3 linked regions of the Homo sapiens genome follow. The protein of the gene in region 1 interacts with the protein of each later gene in a biochemical or structural test. Each region holds a gene or a part of one and is shown on either strand. Other genes may lie near its edges. The genes, in order: SUPT6H, TCEA1 and IWS1.

What was found.
Region 2: the proteins of SUPT6H (region 1) and TCEA1 form a complex in vitro, tested with the Homo sapiens proteins (one study listed by BioGRID).
Region 3: the proteins of SUPT6H (region 1) and IWS1 form a complex in vitro, tested with the Homo sapiens proteins (one study listed by BioGRID).

The regions. Positions count from the first base shown.
Region 1 is NC_000017.11:28,686,103-28,693,214, reverse strand, and holds part of SUPT6H (transcription elongation factor SPT6), read right to left. Parts: intron 6,877-7,112; coding exon 6,800-6,876; intron 6,562-6,799; coding exon 6,426-6,561; intron 6,128-6,425; coding exon 5,990-6,127; intron 5,912-5,989; coding exon 5,744-5,911; intron 5,125-5,743; coding exon 4,997-5,124; intron 4,527-4,996; coding exon of another isoform or gene 4,481-4,526; exon of another isoform or gene 4,376-4,480; intron 3,862-4,375; coding exon 3,654-3,861; intron 3,134-3,653; coding exon 2,986-3,133; intron 2,295-2,985; coding exon 2,152-2,294; intron 1-2,151.
Region 2 is NC_000008.11:54,012,411-54,019,522, forward strand, and holds part of TCEA1 (transcription elongation factor A protein 1), read right to left. Parts: intron 1-7,112.
Region 3 is NC_000002.12:127,502,462-127,509,573, reverse strand, and holds part of IWS1 (protein IWS1 homolog), read left to right. Parts: intron 1-3,821; coding exon 3,822-4,890; intron 4,891-5,997; coding exon 5,998-6,187; intron 6,188-6,701; coding exon 6,702-6,759; intron 6,760-7,112.

The sequences.
Region 1 (7,112 bases):
TGCTGGGATTACAGGCGTGAGCCACCACACCTAGCCATCTTTTTCTTATGACAGTATCACTCTTTTGCCTAGGCTGAAGTGTAGTGGTGCAATCAGGGTTCACTGCAGCCTCAACCTCCCAGGCTCGAGTGATCCTTCCACCTTGGCCTCTCGAGTAGCTGGGACTATAAGCGCACGCCCCCAAGTCTGGGTAATCTTTTTTTTTTTTTTTTTTGAGACAGAGTCTTGCTCTGTTGCCCAGGCTGGAGTGCAGTGGCACAATCTTGGCTCACTGCAAGCTCTGCCTCCCGGGTTCACGCCATTCTCCTGCCTCTGCCTCCCGAGTAGCTGGGACTACAAGCGCCCGCCACCATGCCCAGCTAATTTTTTGTATTTTTAGTAGAGATGGGGTTTCACTGTGTTAGCCAGGATGGCCTCGATCTCCTGACCTCGTGATCCACCTACCTTGGCCTCCCAAAGTGCTGGGATTATAGGCGTGAGCCACTGCACCCGGTTAAGCCTGGCTAATTTTATTTTGTAGAGATAGGGTTTTGCCATGTTGCTCAGGTTGGTCTTGAACTCCTGGGCAAGCACTCCACCTGCCTCGGCCCCTGAAAGTGCTGGGATTACTGGTGTGACTGTGCCCCATCCTCTTTTATGTTTATCCAACTTAGATCCCTTTAGCTGCAACTGAGGCCCCTCCCTTTTGTGTTTTTTTTTGAGATAGGAGTCTCACCACCACACCCTGCTAATCCTTATATTTTTAGTAGAGATGGGGTTTCATCATGTTGGTCAGGCTGGTCTGGAACTCCTGACCTCAGGTGATCCAACTGCCTCAGCCTCCCAAAGTACTGGGATTACAGGCATGAGCCACTGTGCCCGGCCTGGCCCCTCCCCACTTTTTTTTTTTTTTTGAGACAGAGTCTCGCTGTCGCCCAGGCTGGAGTACAGTGGTGCAATCTCGGCTCACTGCAGGCTCCGCCTCCCGGGTTCACACCATTCTCCTGCCTCAGCCTCCCGAGTAGCTGGGACTACAGGCGCCCACCACCATGCCTGGCTAATTTTTTGTATTGTTTAGTAGAGACAGGGTTTCACCGTGTTAGCCAGGATGGTCTCGATCTCCTGACCTCATGATCCGCCCGCCTCAGCCTCCCAAAGTGCTGGGATTACAGGAGTGAGCCACCGCGCCCGGCCAGCCCCTCCCTTTTTTTAAAAAAGGAGATGGGGTCTTGCTATGTTGCCCAGGCTGGCCTCGAACTCCTGGGCTCAAGAAATCCTCCCAAATTAGCCTCTGATGTAGCTGGCACTATACGTACGTGCCACCATGCCTGTCTGCCATTTTGTTTTGACCCAGCGACCATAAGAAGTTTCTTTTTTTTTTTTTTTGAGACGGAGTCTCGCTCTTTCGCCCAGGCTGGAGTGCAATGCTGCTATCTTGGCTCACTGCAAGCTCCATCTCCTGGGTTCACGCCATTCTCCTGTCTCAGCCTCCTGAGTGGCTGGGACTACAGGTGGCCGCCACCGTGCCTGGCTAATTTTTTGTATTTTTAGTAGAGACGGGGTTTCACCGTGTTAGCCAGGATGGTCTCGATCTCCTGACCTCATGATCCGCCCGCCTCGGCCTCCCAAAGTGCTGGGATTACAGGCGTGAGCTACTGCGCCCGGCCGACCATAAGAAGTTTCTAAGTCAGCCTTTTTTTTTCCTTTTCTGAGATGAAGTCTCATTCTGTCACCCAGGCTGCAGTGCAGTGGTATGATCTCGGCTCACTGCAAACTCCGCCTCCTCGGTTCAAGTCATTCTCCTGCCTCAGCCTCTCGAGTAGCTAGGATTACAGGCGTATGCCACCACAACTGGCTAATTTTTGTATTTTTAGTAGAGACGGGGGTTCACCATCTTGGCCAGGCTGGTCTCGAACCCCTGATCTCAGATGAACCGCCCACCTTGGCCCCCAAAGTGCTAGGATTATAGGCGTGAGCCACCGTGCCCAGCTATGTCAGCCTTCTCAGAAGGGACTTCATGCTAAACCTGTGTGTTTCCCGTCCGTCTTCCTTCTTTGTGTACTTGTTTGGTGAGAGAATGATCTAGAACACCCTCATTTCTGATTCCCTTCTAGGCACCGAGATCATTCAACCAAGGAAATCCACTGAGCAGGATAATGCTGCAGCACACACCTCGCTTAGTTCAGGGAAATTGTCCTGCTGACAGAAGGGGCACTGCCACAGCCCTGTCTCATCATTGCGGATCGCCTGGTCATAGCTCTCACCCTGGGGACGCCTGTGGGCAATGCCAGTGACATTGCAGATGATGAGCTTTCCTGCAAGAAGGAAAAGAGGATGGGGAGCAGGCTCAGAGAATGTGGAGAGCACTTCTTTCCACCAGCCTTTCAGTGACAGAATATCTGACTTCCTTCCCATCCTTGAAGAGGGAACTCTTCCCGATTTTTATTTATTTATTTATTTTTGAGATGAAGTCTTGCTCTGTTGCCCAGGCTGCAGTGCAGTGGTGCTATCTTGGCTGACTGTAACCTCTGCCTCCCAGGTTCAAGGAATCCTCCTGCCTCAGCCTCCCGAGTAGCTGGGATTACAGGTGCCCACCACCACGCTCAGCTAATTTTTTATTTTTAGTGGAGATGGGGTTTCACCATGTTGCCCAGACTGGTCTCGAACTCCTGGCCTCAAGCAGTCTGCCTGCCCTGGCCTCCCAAAGTGCTGGGATTACAGGCATGAGCCACTGTGCCTGGCCGTTCCCCTGATTTGATGATAGGGGAAAATAAAGCCTATAAGAAGACTAACTGCATGAAGATTCCATAGCACACTGGAAGCACATTTGACCTTAAATTCAGTTTTGATTTCCAGTCCAGGACTCTTTAGTCTTTTAAAATGCTCTCCTGGCCTTCCCCATGTACAACACAAACCTGCCTCAATCTGTTGGAACTGCTGCTTGGTTTGAATGTACACAGTAAACACACCTCCTGCCCCCAATAAAAAAATGACCCCAGAATTTACCAATGTAGAAGGTCTCTGGTGTTTCTTTGGTTAACATATTGAAGATCTCCTCTGTGTTGGGAGAGCGGTAGGCTGTCCGGAGGTCCTTATATCGACAGCTCAGCTCTGCCCGGATGTCATAGAGTGTGATGTGTTTGTCACCATAGCCCTGGGGAAGAAGCCCATCAAGAAGAGCCTTGCAGCTGCCCCCCAACCTGAGCCTCAAGGAGTCCCGTGGAAGGGGCGGGCCTCTCCAGATGGGAGTAAGTTTCTGTCAGGGCTTCTTCTTTTCTTTCCATCAACATTTACTAAAGGTGGTTTTCAAACTTAGCCATGAAACACTGTAATCAAAATGCTTTATGGAACCCCAATGAGTCCACAGATAAATGCAAAGCTGTGCTGTTAGAAAGGAGGAAAGGGGGCCTAGACGGAAACTGTAGTACTGACATCCTCCCAACTCCCTCCTGCCCCTTGTAATTATGGTGGCAATCTCTGAGACTTCCCTGGCTCCTTAACAAGCAGACCAAAAACTTCCTTGAGGAGCCCAGTAGAGCAGGGCAGGGAGATGAGGATCAAGTCTGCCATACTAACAGTATCAGGCTTTCTCTGCACACTCACTGCCCAAGTCTCCTACCAACCTGGCCACTTGGGATGGGTTCTCCTGCCGGGCCTTCCATGCTGTCCCTTACCTGCCTCTCCAGCTCTTCTGCAAAGGCATCAAGGTCCAGGTCTTTCAGTCGCTCTGGGTTTTCCAAGATTTCTTCAAGGGCTCCTGCAGGATTGGCATCCTCGGCTGATTCATCGTATTCCAGGGCATCCACTGCCATCTTCCTAGCCCACTCATAAGTCTCAGGGTGGACACGGGAACCATCAAGGACTTCAATATATGAGTCAGTGCTGGAGGAAAGGCAGAAAAGGAACAGGATATAGAACGATAAGCTTCTAGTAACAACCCAAATGTCCACCAATGGGGAACTGGTTAAATAAATTAGGGCACCTCCATACAATGGAATACTATACAGCCATTAACAAGAATGAGGTAGATCTATGTGTGCTGACATGGAAAGATGGCCACAATATATTGATACGTGAAAAATGCACTGCAAAAACACTATGAACCATATGATCCCATTTTTGTAGTAAATGGGTAGTTAGTAAATGCATAGCAAAAATAAAATTTAGAAAAACTGTAGTATACATAAAATTGTTATGGTAGTTATCTCTGGGGGGTGGGATTATGGGGGACTTCCACTTTCTGCATAATATTTCTATATGTTGAATTTTATATGATGAACTTATATGAGTCTCATAATAAGATAAATCAAGAAAGGGGAAAAAAACCTTTGAAAATTTGCTGATAGCTATTTTCCCCCATAAAGCCTTCCCAGGCTGGTCTTGCCCGTGCACTCACATGGACCTATGTTATTCGTGGAGTGTTACAGCAAAGCTGAGTGGAAAATGAAGTTTTAGAACTTGAAGCCTATTTCCCCACTGATTTCCATTACTGAATGAGGAGCTATGTGCCCGTGGAAAAGATCCTCCAAAGACTGAGTTGATAACTTCTGGAGAGGAAGAGGTCAATAGTGAAGTCCAAAGTCCAAGTGAATAGAACTTTCTCTTAATAACATCATCTCAAAACATACCAAATCTCTCTCCCCCTTCCTTATCTCTTTATACCCCCAAACTCCTTTTTCATTGCCCCCGCTATTCCCACCCTTATCTGGCCACAACAAACCATAATAATAAAAAAGCAAGTTTGTGTTTACTGAACAAAATCTTGTGTTTTCCATGCTTAATTTATAAGCTAAGCTGGTACTTTTTATGTTTCTCTCACACGAAAAATGTTTCACATGATTGAACCGATCTTTTCCATAGGTCAGGGGCTCTTGACTGAATAAAGTTCCTTACCTTTTCTTTAAAACATTTCCTAAGTTAAAATGGCTTGTGGCCCTTTGATAGCCCTAACCCCTGAAACCCGAAAACAAAGCCCACAAGGGAATTCCTCCTGCCCCATCCAGGCAGAGGGCATCACCTGTCCCCCAGGGAGGCCGTGTCGATCTTGAGGAAGCCAGCACAATTCATGAAGACTTTGGGACCCATGTGGCACATGGTGACCAGCTGGGTCCGGCTCTCGAGCCGGGTGTTGTTCTGCTTCAGGATCTGGGGGAGAGAGCTGGACTGAGCCAGGGCAGTAAGCAGGCCCCACCTCCCCAGACTGTTCCAGTCTCTATTAAACCCTCATAACAAAAACTCTGTCCCACCCAGTATCTAGTTGAGCACTACAGCATGCTATCGACCACTCAAAATTAAAAAAAAAAAAAAAAAAGTTTTGCTTTAAATGGGAAAATAATAAACAAATAAATGATGTTATACCTACACCAAAGACCATATACAACTAATGTATGGCTTATAAGTTACAAGTTAACACTAGTTGGCCGGGCGCAGTGGCTCATGCCTGTAATCCCAGCACTTTGGGAGGCTGAGGCGGGTGGATCACCTGGGGTCAGGAGTTTGAGACCAGTCTGGCCAACATGGTGAAACCCCGTCTCTACTAAAAATACAAAAAATTAGCTGGGTGTGGTGGTGCAAGCAGCAGTGAAGGGCACAGCTTTGGCCAACTGGGTCTGAAGTCAGACTCTTTTGACTCTCACTAGCTGAGTGATTTTGGACAAGTCACTGACCTTGGTCCTCCCAATCTGTCAAATTATACTGACAAAGTATATATTCATATTCAATGAAATGGCAAGTTTTAAAATTTCTGAATTCACTCCAATCCTACCTTCAGGAGGTGGGTCCCTTTCCGAGGTCCCAGGCCACAAACATACTGGATCAAGGCCTGGCTGTAAGGGTGGGCAATGGCACGGTTGACATCGACCCCGACCTCATTGACTCGGTTGATAAATTCACAGTACAAGGCGTTGAGCAGCTCCTCTTTCACCACATGCTCCTGTGGACATTCAGCAGGCAGGAGTAAGGTTACTCTGCCTTTCCCTTCACCCGAGCCTGCCTGTCAAATCCTACTCACCTGCAAGGGGTGAAACTTGAGACACAGGATGTCTTCATCGGAACTGCACACCTGGGCAAATTCAATCAGAGGGTCCTGGATGCGCCGGGCCAGGGAGACGGCCTGTCTCAGCACTGGAGGATAATCCCGGAACTCTGCCTAGAGTCAAACGAGGGTCAGCAGGGCCTTAAAATCCCCTTAGCTACAACATCAAGAGGAAATCCAAACCATTCTGGTTTAAATCATTTTCTCTGCTTCTCTGGGATCTTTTTTCCTGAGACCGATTTAATTTCTGGGACTCCCAATCTGAACCGTAACTGCAAAACGGAGAACTTCTGCATGGATAAGTACACAGGTACAGTCCTGTGCCCCTGATAACTTTTGTTTCCCAATTTAATCTCTTTGGGATTAATAGCACTTGCCTGGGCAGGCCCTAAGGGTGAGGCTCCAGCATTACCTCTGACTTCTTGCTGTTCATATAGAGAATGGCCAACTCGTTGTCAACCAGCTCTACCCCAATAGATGACAGCTGCTGGCCCTGGTCCAGCTCATGTACAATGCGCTTCACATCTTCAATCAACATCTGGGCGTCCCTGGTGGGATGAGTGTTGGTCAATGAATATGTTTTCTTAGGGATGGACAGTCTCATGACTGCCTTGGGGGTGAAGAGGTAGGGGAGGAAAGGGCTTTGAAGAAAATGAGGTCAAACATCCCCAGGGACACTCCCTGCACAAGCACAAGCCCCATCTGTTATGGGCATATGCCAGACTCAATAATAAGGGATGAGTTGGGTCACGGCCTTAAACCAGGTGTGGTCTAATCCCTACCTACCTGTTCTCTCCTGCAACTGTCACTACATGAGGCTTCTTATTCAGGAGAAATTTCTTTAGCGTTTCAATGTCTTGAGCCTGGATTGAAAGAAAATTGAAGCTGAATGGCTCTGAGGATGTAAAGATTTCAGGAAATTCTGTCTCCCTATGTTGGAGATCTTGTAAGAACTGGAAGTCTTCAGAAGATATCTGGTCCAAGGTGCTACCAAGGAACTATTCCCACCTCTTCCTGAAAGTTGGCCAACCCTGCCTCTGCTTAATAATTCCACTGACTAGAACTGCGCTCCAGTGGTACCAGGTGCCACTGGCTAGGT
Region 2 (7,112 bases), on another chromosome or scaffold:
TTAGCTGGGCGTGGTGGCGGGTGCCTGTAATCCCAGCTACTCAGGAGACTGAGGCAGAGAGCTGCTTGAACCCAGGAAGTGGAGGTTGCAGTGAGCCGAGATCGCGCCACTGCACTCCAGCCTGGGCGACAGAGCGAGACTCCGTCTCAAAAAAACAAAAAACAAAACAAAAAAAAGAAATGTTAATGTCTGGTTGCTGAAGTGCCCAAATCCTGCTGGGGGTATTATGTAATATATGATGTATATACCAAATTATCTTTATCAAATCTGAAAAATCTGGAATTACCAAATATATCAGACCCTAAGGGTTTTGATTAACAAACTCTAGAAGTCTGGACAACACAGCATGACCCCCTCTCTACAAAAAATAAAGATAAAAAATTAGCTGGCCATAGTGCCTGTAGTCCTAGCTACTCCAGAAGCTGAGGCGGGAGGACTGCTCGAGCCCAGAAGCTTGAGATTACATGAACCATGATCGTGCCACGGCAGTCTAGCCTGTGTGGACAGAGTGAGACTCCATTTCTAAAATAAAAATTAAAAAACGACGACGACAAAAAAAAAAAAAAAAAAAAAAGATTGTGGGCCTGTATTCTCCATTTACCATTGACATTTTTCTTCTATCCACATTTCCAGGATTTCTGATCCACTTCTGACCAAGAATCTCTTAATAAGGGTAAAGAATCACACTTCTAGAAGTTCCTTAAAAAGCAGGGTTTCCTAAGTATTAAGTTGATTCTTCCAACATATCAGCAATGAGACATACAGTTTAAATTGTTTTCCAAGTAGAGGCAATATATTTGCATTAATTTTGTTACTTTCCTTTTCTACTCAGCTCTCTGGTGAGGCCATGGTTGGAATAAAAAGCTAAAAGTAACACTCACGGAATAAAACTATGACCTTTCTGAAAACTGCACTGTGTTCCAACTAATTCAAATAAATATTTCACTGAAGGGTCTTTAAGAAATAACTATGGGCTGGGCACGGTGGCTTATGCATGTGGCTCACACCTGTAATCCTAGCACTTTGGGAGACCGAGGTGGGAGGATCAACCTGAGCTCAGGAGTTCGAGACCAGCCTGGCCAACATGGTGAAACTCCATCTCTACTAAAAATACAAAAATTAGCGGGGCGTGGTGGCGGGCACCTGTAATCCCACAGCTACTCAGGAGGCTGAGGCAGGAGAATCACTTGAACCCAGGAGGCGGAGGTTGCAGTGAGCCGAGATCGTGCCACTGCACTCCAACCTGGACGATAGAGCAAAACTCCATCTCAAAAAAAAAAAAAAAAAAAAAACAAAAAACAGACAAACAAAAAGAAATAACTATGATGATCTGAATGAGTGAAATGCAAAACAGATAATCATACATTAATTCGGTGACAACAAACTTTGAGTGCTGCTATGTGCTTGGCATTGTTAAATACTTCACATAGATTTAATTCCACCTTCACCATAAACCCTATAGAAGCAGGTATTATCTCCATTTTACAGATGAGGAAATATGTCAAGAAACTTGCACAAGGTTCTATGATTACTAACTAGAAAAGGTAAGATCTACTCCAGTAATGTCAAATGTACCAAGCTCTACTGTACTGGGGATACAGCAGTGAGCAAGACTGAAACCCTTTCTGACATCAGGGAATTTTAAAACAAACAGAAATCTTTAATCATCTATTTCAAACCCTTAACTACACACAAAAAAAAGAAACTTAAACCCAGAAAAGAAAAGTGACTTGCCCAAGGTCATACTGACGGGTAGTAAGGTCATGAACTAGTCGCCTGACCCTTATACTGCTGCCCTTTCCCCAGCAGTGCGCCAGTGGCAGCACTCCTTTGTGAATTCAGATGACTAGTATCACCAAACAAGAAGCTGTATTTTAGCCTTCCCCAAGCATCACCTAGCTCTAAATGTCAAGCCTAGGCCAGGCACAATGGCTCAGCCTGTAATCCCAGCACTCTGGGAGGCCTAAGGCAGGAGGATCACTTGAGCCCAGGGGTTCGAGACCAGCCTGGATAACAGAATGAGATCCCACCTCTATTTAAAAAAAAAGAAAAGAAAAGAATACATGTCCAAGTCTATGAGATTGTAGCATCTCCTACAGATGATGCAAGAGAAAGAAAGACTCTTCTTTAATTTCCAGAGCCAAATTTAGTTCACACTACTGGCTGAAAGATAAACTACAGCTATCACACTATTTTATTACATTGTTGGTGCTCCTATCTGGTAATAGAAAACAAGTGATTTTATAAACCATGATACTTGTACTATGTGCTCAGTATACTCAAGACCATGTAGGATACGAACATCCCTCTCCTCAAGGAGATGTAAAAAGGAGGGAGTAATAGGGATTTATAGTTAAGAATATGGTGTACATATATGACAGATTTAGATTCAAATCCATGCTCTGACATTTGCTAACTACAAGATCTGGGTAATGTTATTTGTCCTTTTCAAGCTTCAGCTTCTTTATACGTAGGTGAGCATAACACACCAACCTTGAGTAGTTAAAACAGCCAAATGAGGCAACATTACACAGATAAAGTATCAAAATAGAGGGTCTGACACATAGCATGGTTGATGAGGAGTACAAAAATATACAAATAATTACTTATTTCTACCATAACAATAATCTCCAGGGGCCATAAGCCAGCATTTTCAGTGATCATATTTAAGCTCAATCAAGTAAAACAGTTACTTCTTCTATAATAATGTCTTCTTCATAGGCATTATTATAAGATTTCAAGGTTAAAGAATTAAGATATTATCCATTTTTTTTTTTTTGAGACAGTCTCACTGTGTCGCCCAGGCTGGAGTGCAGTGGCGTGATCTCAGTTCGCTGCAACCTCTACCTCCTGGGTTCAAGCGATTATCCTGCCTCAGCCTCCCAAGCAGCTGGGACTACAGGCGCCCACCACCACGCCCAACTAATTTTTGTATTTTCAGTAGAGATGGGGTTTCACTATGTTAGCCAGGCTGGTCTTGAACTCCTGACCTCGTGATCTGCCCACCTCAGCCTCCCAAAGTGCTGGGATTACAGGTGTGACCCACCATGCCTGGCCCATTATCTATTTTCTTAAACAATGAATTATAGATATTTGAGTTGTAGCTCAATAACATCACTATAAAGCTAGGACTTATGATATTACTATGTCATCTCAAATTTGCAGTTAAACTACACCAAAAGCACAAGCAACAAAAGAAAAATATATATAAATTCATCTTCATCAAAATTAGAATATTTTATACTTCAAAGGCCACAACCAAGAGCAGACAGACAACCCACAGAATGGGAGACAGTATCAGCATATCTAACAAGGTTCTAGTATTCAGAATATAAAGAACTCTTACAACTCAATAATAAAAAGACAACCCAATTTAAAAATGGACTAATCCAATTTGTACTCCAGCCTGGGCAACATAGCCAGACCCTGACTCTTTTCTAAAAAATGGGCAAAGGATCTGAATAGACATTTATTTCTCCATAGAAGATATGCAAATGGCCACAAAGCAATGAAAAGATGCTCAACATTGTTAATCACAAGGGACATGCAAATCAAACCCACAATGAAATACCACTTTACACCCACTAGGAAGGCTATAATCAAGACAAATGATATTGGTGAAAATGAGGTGAAACTGGAATCCTCACACACTGCTAGTTGGAATGTAAAATGGTGCAGCCACACTGGAAAGGTCTGGCAGTTCCTCAAAAGGTTAAACATAGTTACTATATGACCCAGTAATTATTCTCCGAGGTATACACCCAACAGAAATGAAAACATATGTCGCCAGGCGCGGTGGCTCACGCCTGTAATCCCGGCACTTTAGGAGGCCGAGGCGGGCAGATCATGAAGTCAGGAGATCGAGACCATCCTGGCTAATACAGTGAAACCCAGTCTCTACTAAAAATACAATAGCCGGGCATGGTGCTGGGTGCCTGTAGCCCCAGCTACTCGGGAGGCTGAGGCAGGAGAATGGTGGGAACCCGGGAGGCGGAGCTTACAGTGAGCCATCACACCACTGCACTCCAGCCGGGGTGACAGAGCGAGACACTTGTACAGCAATGTTTTTAACAGTATTATTCACAACAGCCAAAAAGCTGAAACAGCCCAAATGTCCACCAAATGATGAATGAATAAGCAAATCGTGGTTGGGTGCAGTGGCTCACATCTGTAATCCCAGCACTTTGGGAGGCTGAAGCGGGTAGATCACCTGAGATCAGGAGTTCTAGACCAGCTTGGCCGACATGGTGAAACCCTGTCTCTACTAAAAATACAAAAATCAGGCCAGGCGGTGTGGCTCACGCGTGGAAATCCCAGCACTTTGGGAGGCCAAGACAGGCGGATTATGAGGTCAGGAGTTTGAGACCGGCCTGGCCAATATGGTGAAACCCCATCTCTACTAAAAATACAAAAATTAGCCGGGTGTGGTGGTGCGCGCCTATAGTCCCAGCTACTCGGGAGGCTGAGACAGGAGAACTGCTTGAACCTGGGAGGCGGAGGTTGCAGTGAGCCGAGATCGCGCCACTGCACTCCAGCCTGAGCGACAGAGCAAGATGAGACTCCGTCTCAAAAAAAAAAAAAAAAAAAAAAGACTATACTAAGCAAAAGAGGCCAGTTACAAAAGACCACATACTGTATAATTTCACTGACAGAAAATTTCCAGATTTGGCAAACACACAGACAGAAAGTATATTAGTGGCTGTCAGAGGCGTGTGAGAAATTGGTGGGGGCAAATGAGGGCTGAATGAGGAGTGACTGCTTAATAGGTACAGGGTTTCTTTTTGGAGTGATGAAAATGTTCTAAAATTATACAGTAGTAATAGTTGCACAAACCCGTAAATACACTAAAAGCCACTGAATTAACAGTTGACCCTCAAATAACATGGGTTTAAACTGCACAGATTCACCTGAGAATTTTCTTTCACCTCTGCAACCCTAGATGACAAAACCAACTCTTCCTTTCTCCTCAGCTTATTCAATGTGAAGACAAAGAGGATGAAGACCTTTACGACGACACATTTCCACTTCATGAACAGTAAACATATTTTCTCTCCTTTATTTCTTTTCTTTTCTTTTTTGAGACATTGTCTCGCTCTGTCACCCAGGCTAAGTGCCTATAATCCCAACATTTTGGGAGGCCAAGGCAGGCAGATCACTTGAGTTCAGGAGTTCTAGATCAGCCTGGGCAATATGGTGAAACCCCATCTCTATAAAAAATACCCAAAAAAGGCTGGGCTCAGTGGCTCACGCCTGTAATCCCAGCAATTTGGGAGGCCGAGGCAGGTGAATCACTTGAGGTCAGGATGTGGAGACCAGCCTGAGAAAAATGGTAAAATCCCATCTCTACTAAAAATACAAAATTAGTTGGGTGTGGTGGCACGCACTTGTAGTCCCAGCTACTCGGGAAGCTGAGGTGGGAGAGCTGCTTAAACCCAGGAGGCGGAGGTTGCAGTGAGCCAAGATCATGCCACCACACTCCAGCCTGAGTGACATGACTGCATGAGTTATACTACTACAAAAGTTATACTACTTGACTGCATGCGGGTAGGGAGGGGGGATAGTGTGAGCACCACAACCCTTGCATTGTTCAAGAGTCAACTACACTTTAAGAATGAATTTAATTCTATTTCTCGATAAAGCTGTTATTAAAAATTGTATAGTCATTCTAAATTTTGAATTATGCTAATTAATCTAACTCTGATATAGATATCAAAGTTTTGTTGCAGTTGTTATTTTAACTGAGGTACTTGGAAATGTAAATCAATATTTCAGGTATCCCAGCTCCTACGAAATTCTAACATCTAATTTCAATTTCTCTCCCTGCAATTTAATTCCACTCAACCTTGAGCCTTCAATGAAATAAATAAATAAACCTCAGCACTACCCACAAAATCTCTCCATGAACTTCAAAACTTTATGTCCTTGCCTCACTCCTCCTTCTATAATCTAAATGAATCCTTTACAAAGAAAGGCAACCTCAGATTGTTTTTTAGGCCTTATTACATCCTTTAGGCCCACAATCCTACACTAGAAGCATTTTATATTCACTTAATCCTTACTAAATTATCTCCAGTTTACCATGACGAGAAACATTTTAGTGATGACAAAGAACTTGCCTAAAATCACACAGCTAAAGTTCAGAAAAGTTCAGAAAAGCCAGGATTTGAACCCACATTAGCAGTCAGACTTGGTTACTGACACCGAATCAAAGTGACAAGAAAACAGCTTAAGCAGAAAACAGCTAATACCTAAAAATTTCGAACTACTTTCTGTGGTTCACTGTGGCTTGGTCATGTGCACTTGAGATCAAGTACACATGTGGGACAACATCTTGGGTAGAACTAGGGTCAGGATATTGATCTAGGTAACTAGGGAAACACACCTGCCCCAAAACAGCAAGTTCATACTCTTACTTCCTGATTTTGTATTCACTTAATTGTATCCATGCATGGTTCAAGAGCAGATGCAAGGGTCTTCTAGAGAGACACTGTAGCTTAAGAGAGGAGTACTAGCTTTGGAGCAAAACAGATTTAGATTCACATCTTCACTTGGCCATTCACTAGCTATTTGGCTTAAGACTATTCTAAATACTTAGCATCCTCATTTTCAGAATGAGGATAATACTCATCTTGCAAAGTTGCCTGAGGAATAAATGGGATAAGGTGGGTAAGTATTTAGCAGAATACCTGGCTCAGAGTAATAGCTCAATAAATGGTAAGCTGTTTTTAGTTAAGTGTGACACCTATGGTTTTAGTAAAACAAAATTATTCAGGTAAAGCAGCAGCATGTTAAAATATTTTTTTAAATGATATCTAAATTTGCACTTAAATTTGTCAATTCTGATGACAACTATTACTCTTCAAAGTTAACTTTTTCAGGCTGGGCGCAGTGGCTCACATCTGTAATCCCAGCACTCTGGGAGGCCAGGACGGGCAGATCACCTGAGATCAGGAGTTCAAGACCAGCCTGGCCAATACGTTGAAATCCCATCTCTACTAAAAATACGAAAATTAGCCAGGCATGGTGGTGCACACCTGTAGTCCCAGCTTCTAGGGAGGCTGAGGCAAGAGAATCGCTTGAACTGGGGAGGCGGAGGTTGCAGTGAGCCGAGA
Region 3 (7,112 bases), on another chromosome or scaffold:
ACCACACTCAGCTAATTTTTTGCATTTTTCGTAGAGACAGGGTTTCACCATGTTAGGCAGGATGGTCTCAATCTCCTGACCTCGTGATCTGCCCACCTCGGCCTCCCAAAGTGCTGGGATTACAGGCGTGAGCCACTGCGCCCGGCGGCATTATAGATGTTTCTAAAGCATCTAAGGACCTTCTGAGTGCTCAATTTCTTTTACCATTACAACTAGGAAATGTGTTACATTATTTTAGAAATGACATTAAATGTCAGTTTCAACTGTTGGTTTGTTGTACTCATCTGACTTTTAAAAAACTGTCTTTTGGATTTTTTTTAAGCTTGCAATTTAATTGCCAAAACCACTCTAAAAACTTTGGATATTGTTTTGATAACTTTTAAGCTTAACTGTATAATTTCCAGCATACTCGTCCCAAATTCTGTGGTGGTGTTGTCTAAGTGTATTCTTTAGCTCGAGTCTATTAAACTAGTACTTCTTTACTGTAGTGATTTCTCCCCTTTTTTGCCCTGTCATGCCATACATAATGCTATGTTTTCGTGAAACTCATAAAAAATTCATGAGGATTCCTAAATTTTACAATCATTGTCTTATGCAGTGTCCTTGTAAGGGTTTGTTTTGGAATGCTACACCATGTGTCAGGAAATCTGGGGTAGAGTGTAGCGGGTGAGTTTTGGATGACTGCCCAGTGTCTCTCACTTCTTTGGGAGTGACTCCCAGTGCTGTGCCCCGATCCAGCTGTAACTGATTGAGTCACAGTTTCTAATATTGCCTTGGCCAGTTAAGTCATCTCTCTTGGGGATTTATAATTTAGGTTCTAGACAGGGTATAGCTGAGTCATGTTACTGATGGTACTCTAGTAAAATGATCCTTGAGTTCCCTTTTCTAAGCTCTCTGTGCTGCGTTGGTACTTAACCTTCCCAAGTGTTTAGTCATTCAACTGACTTTGATCCTGAGAAGATTGTTCTTTTTTTCTGGACTTAGCTAGAGATGATTTCTGTAGTTTCAACTAAAATAAATCAAGTCACACATAGAAATGGTGTTAGAGTTATGTGATGGATATATCATGGAGAGCATTCCAAAAGCCAATTATAATTTTCCTTTTTGCCTCCTGCTTTAATTGCCTCTGCTGGTACTGTATGCCTCTCCCCACCCTCCCGTCTTAACTCAGCCATCACAAACTGCATGCAAACATGCCTGTTGTCTGCACACCTTTTTTTTGCAGCTCAGTTTCATATAGATGCACTTCCAGTACACTTTTGAAATATCATATACATACTTTGTGAATAGTGCATGTCACACTATACTGTTACAGTATGCTTGGCTGGCTCCTCATCAGACAGCAGCTCTTAAGGTCAGGCCCTGTGACATACTCCGCCTGGATTCTTGGTGTCTTGCACGTAGTAGACATGAAATACATTCTTGTTGGATTAATTTTTCCTCACCTTATGTTATTCCCACTTAAGGCCTTTATTACTCATTTAACAAATACACGTTGAGTATCCCTTATCCAAAATGCTTCAAATCAGAAGTGTTTTGGATTTAGAATTTTTTCGAGTTTTGGAATATTTACTTATACAGAGTGAGCTATTTTGGCGATGGAACCCAAGTCTAAACACGAAATTCATGTGTCTTATATACATAGCTGGAAGGTAATTTTACACATTATTTTAAATAATTTTTCACATGAAACAAAGTTTGTGTTGGGTGCTTATGTGTGGAATTTTCCACTTGTGGTGTCATGTCAGTGCTCAAGAAGTTTCAGATTTTGGAGTTGTCTGAATTTTCAGATTAGGAATGCTCGAACTCTACCTAGTGTGTGTATGTTCTGGAGACCATTCTGCACTCTGAGGATACCTCAGGAAAACAAACCAAAATATGTCTGCCTTCCTAGAGCTTACAATCTAGATAGTTAAATTTTCCATCTGCATTCTTTTAAATTATGAAGTGTGGCTAAAGTAAACTTTAGGCAACATACAGACTATTGTACGGTAATTGTAAGATTCTATGATATCTCTCAAGTCCTAATACCGTTTTAATAGATAAGTGCCTGTTTCAGTGGGATAATAGAGCTTGTGACTGACAAGGAATCTAATACAGTACTGTGTTGAGTGCCCAGTGAGAACTCAAGAAAAATGTATTTAGGAATTTTGAAAAGTGTATGATTTTGGAAACTTACCTGAATGTGCTATATTTCAGTGACTGTGTATAGCAATGACTCTTTGCAATGCTGTGCTGTCATAATGGTGATAAAATATTTAAAAACTCTTCAAACATTGGCTTTGTAGGCTATTTTATAATTTTTCATATTCTTTTTGAATTTGTAGACACAGCATACTTGGGTTAGTAAAAGTTTGGGTTTTATGAGAACATTTTCAAGCCATTTATCTTGTCATTGACAAGAATAATCTTGTCACTTAACTGTTTCATAGCATGATGTTGGGCATATATATTATTAAAGGCTCTTTGGTCCTTGAAAATTGGTCTGTGGTAGGTTCACATAGCTTAAGTCATATATCTAACAAGAAATATTTGGCTCAGTAAATTTTTAAGAGGGTATACTCAAACACGGAAATACTTTCACTTTTTAAGCTAGAATATTATTGCCATGTTATTTAAAGTTGAGCTACCAGATGGGAGAAAAAATTCACCGGATCCTAAAATACTTGTTAGTATTTTGGCATGTTTAATTTTGTATATTTTTCTCTGCATTTTAAAGCCATAGCTATAATATGCACATATCAAGTTTGTACCCCAGGGCATGTTTTCAGAGTAATTATTTCAAGTAACATTATGTGTTGGTATAGTTAGATGAATCATGTTCTCCCTAAAACTTAAGCTTTCTTGTTTCTAGGGTTACTAGACACAGGACCGTGACTACTGTAAGCCTCAATTTTGTTATCATGAGAAGTACCATTATGAGGAGTAAATGAACTAACAGGAGAGAGCCTGTTGTGGTATTGGCTCTTAGTGGGTACTTAGGAAATGTTAACTTCTCCTTTCTTTGTTTGCTTAAATTATCTTGGGAGAAGGTGCCCATATGTTATTTGACCCTTTAAATAAAATTAAATTTTATAGTTCTTTTCCCTTAAATAATCTTAACCTTATAAAACCCAAGAATGTTCCTGTGTAAAAGAACTTGGTTACATGTTTGCTTGTATTTCTTTGAAAAATAGAGTTATTTATTTTTATTTATTTATTTTTATTTTTGACAGTCTCACTCTGTCACCCAGGCTGGAGTGCGATGGTGCAATCTCAGCTCACTGCAACCTCCGCCTCCCAGGTTCAAGTGATTCTCCTGCCTCAGCCTCCCTAGTAGCTGGGATTACAGGTGTCCACCACCACGCCCAGCTAATTTTTGTATTTTTAATAGAGACAGGGTTTCACCATGTTGGCCGGGCTGGTCTCGAACTCCTGACCTCAGGTGATCCACCACCTCGGCCTCCCAAAAGGTGTGAGCCACCTTGTCCAGCCTAGAGTTATATTTTTACAAAACAGAAGTATGTATGAGAAAATTCGCCTTTTAAAAAAGAAAAAATCTAGCTCTTCACGGTCAGTTTTCTGTAGTAATCTGAGGGCATGCTTTACAAATCTGTTTTGATGAAGGCTGGTTATATTTCCCCATTTGGGGATCCAAATAAAACCATTTCACTGATTGGCTTTCTGTGGGGGTGTTTCTATATGGGTATAGGACAAGAATTCTCCATTTAGGTGCACATAATCCTGTATTTTAAAAAAATCACAGAAAAAATTTAATGTTTTATTATTAATGGTTTTTTTTTTTTTGCACTTTCCTAATTTTTTCTCACTTTATTTTTCAGAATGAAACTAGTGATCGAGAAGATGGCCTCCCCAAAGGACATCATGTGACAGACTCTGAGAACGATGAGCCCTTAAATCTTAATGCTAGTGACTCTGAAAGTGAGGAGCTTCACAGGCAAAAGGACAGCGACTCTGAATCTGAGGAACGTGCAGAGCCTCCTGCAAGCGATTCTGAAAATGAGGATGTCAATCAGCATGGGAGCGACTCTGAGAGTGAAGAGACCAGGAAATTACCTGGTAGTGACTCTGAAAATGAGGAACTTCTTAATGGGCATGCAAGTGACTCAGAAAACGAAGATGTTGGGAAGCATCCCGCCAGTGATTCTGAGATTGAGGAGCTCCAGAAGAGTCCTGCTAGTGACTCTGAAACAGAAGATGCTCTAAAACCTCAAATCAGTGACTCTGAGAGTGAGGAACCCCCAAGGCACCAAGCCAGTGACTCCGAAAATGAGGAGCCTCCCAAACCTCGAATGAGTGATTCTGAAAGTGAGGAGCTTCCTAAACCTCAGGTCAGTGATTCAGAAAGTGAGGAACCCCCAAGGCACCAGGCCAGTGACTCTGAAAATGAGGAGCTTCCCAAACCTCGTATCAGTGACTCAGAAAGTGAGGACCCTCCGAGGCACCAGGCCAGTGACTCAGAAAATGAAGAGCTTCCCAAACCCCGAATCAGTGATTCGGAAAGTGAGGATCCCCCAAGGAACCAGGCCAGTGATTCGGAAAATGAGGAGCTACCCAAACCCCGAGTCAGTGACTCTGAGAGTGAGGGGCCTCAGAAGGGGCCTGCCAGTGACTCAGAAACTGAGGATGCGTCCAGACACAAACAGAAGCCAGAGTCAGATGATGACAGCGACAGGGAGAATAAGGGAGAGGATACAGAAATGCAGAATGACTCCTTCCATTCAGACAGCCATATGGACAGAAAAAAGTTTCACAGTTCTGATAGTGAGGAGGAAGAACACAAAAAGCAAAAAATGGACAGTGATGAAGATGAAAAAGAGGGTGAGGAGGAGAAAGTAGCGAAGAGAAAAGCTGCTGTGCTTTCTGATAGTGAAGATGAAGAGAAAGCATGTAAGGAGTTACCTTGGGCTGTTTATCAATGGCTTTATTCATTGTCTAAGCTTGTAACTGTGGAACATTGTATCCTCTTGGTATGTCAGATCTGTGTTCTGTTATTCAGCTTAATATTCTAAAATATCAGTAGGACACTCATTTCCCCTGGTTATCATTAGCTAAGCTTAATAGTAAGTTTCCTTGGAGTTCTATTAGCACATATTAATCTCTGACTGCCTCAAAGTGATAAACCACATGTCAATAGGAATATAAAATACTGTTTTTTTTTTTTAAAACTGGAAGAGGTAATGTTTCAAAGAAATACGTTTACATAAAAACCCCTAACTGTATTAATTGTTAGCTGTGGGTCTCTTTGACACTTAGTTCACTAGATCCCATCCAAACAGTAACAGCTCCCACAGGTACATCTCTTCATTTGTTAAACATTGTTGAATATTCAGATACAGGGAAGCTTTGAGAGGATTCTATTTAGAGACACCATCTCTCTCCAGAGTGTTTCAGTCTCTGCTATCTAAGACTCCATTTGCACAGATAGTATTACTTGTCTACTTTTTTATGAAACTTATCTTTTTTGGAAAAGACATATTTCATTATAACCTCACAGTTCTTATAGGAGAAGGAAAAGGTACCAGACATGCTGTCAATTTGTTAAGGGAGATGAGAAATTTCAAACTGACCAGCAATGATAGAGGAACATGGAGACTATTCCTAGAAAGAAATATGTAGTCCTTTTTAGTTCAGTTACTACTAGGCAACATAGAAAGGATGCCAGTTTTGCCCATCAATCTAGTTTTAATTTTCTCGATTTCCCAAAAGGAAAGGTGGCTGCTTTTATATTGATGATATCTTTCTTCATCTTTTGGCCAGTTTTTCTTAAGCAAAATAACAGATAATTTGTAAGATGACTCTGAATGAGCCATTTAGTTATTTTAAAAATTCTAAACCATGTGTCAGGAGGCCCTCTGATTTTATTTTATTTATTTATTTATTTATTTATTTATTTATTTATTTTTGCTGTATACTGCCATCTTAAAGCACCTGTTATGCTTAGTAATACAATGGCTGTGATAAAATAAAATTAATGATGATTTTCTTTTTCAACAGCAGCAAAGAAGAGTCGTGTTGTCTCTGATGCAGATGACTCTGACAGTGATGCTGTATCAGACAAGTCAGGCAAAAGAGAGAAGACCATAGCATCTGACAGTGAGGAAGAAGCTGGGAAAGAATTGTCTGATAAGAAAAATGAAGAGAAGGATCTGTTTGGGAGTGACAGTGAGTCAGGCAATGAAGAAGAGTAAGTGACAGTATAACATGAGTTTTCAGGGGTTCTTAATTAGGCAGTAGAGAGGGGTCTGTGTTATAATACAATATGTCCTGCCTAATTGCATGTCTTTGGGGATTTAGTATTTTAGTTCCTGAACTGAACACACTACAATGTGGGTGAATCTCAGAATTCATCTCAGAATTAACATGTTAAGTGAAAGAAAGCAAAGAGGACATATATGATTCCATTTACATGAAGTTCAGTAGGCAAAATTTATCTGTGGTGTTGGAAGTCAAGGTGGCAGTTGTTTCTAGGATGTTGATATTGGGGACCAGCTAGAAGGGGCCATGAGAGGACTTTCTGGGGAGGCTACATGAGTGTATAGGGTGCTGGTTACATGAGTGTATATATTTGTTAAAACTCATTGAACTGAACACTGAAGATCTGCACATTTTACTGTACATAAATTCTATTTTTTAAAAAATGGTTCCTATGCAAATGAGGATAAAGCAAATGAATGTTTTTACATTTGTCTACTTTCTAGAAATCTTATTGCAGACATATTTGGAGAATCTGGTGATGAAGAGGAAGAAGAATTTACAGTAAGTATAAGATGGAAATATTTCCTCCTTGATTGTGCTTTTTTTTGGTGTTTTTATGGCAGTGATACCATTATAGATGATTCTAATAAGTAGGAATAAACAATTATGATGTATTCAAGATAAAAATCTAGAAGAGGGATTCAGGAAGTAAAATGAAAGCGTATATACAAAGACATAAAAGGAAGCTAATGGGCAAAATTGAATTAAGGGGGAAGGGACACTTTGAGACAAAGAAAGTCACTTTATAATGCTAAAGGGCAAGATTCACAATAATTAGGGAACTTCCGATTTTCACAGTGGCATTCTAGGTGATTTGGACTAACCCCTCTGCCAAGCACAACTAGAAAAGCTAG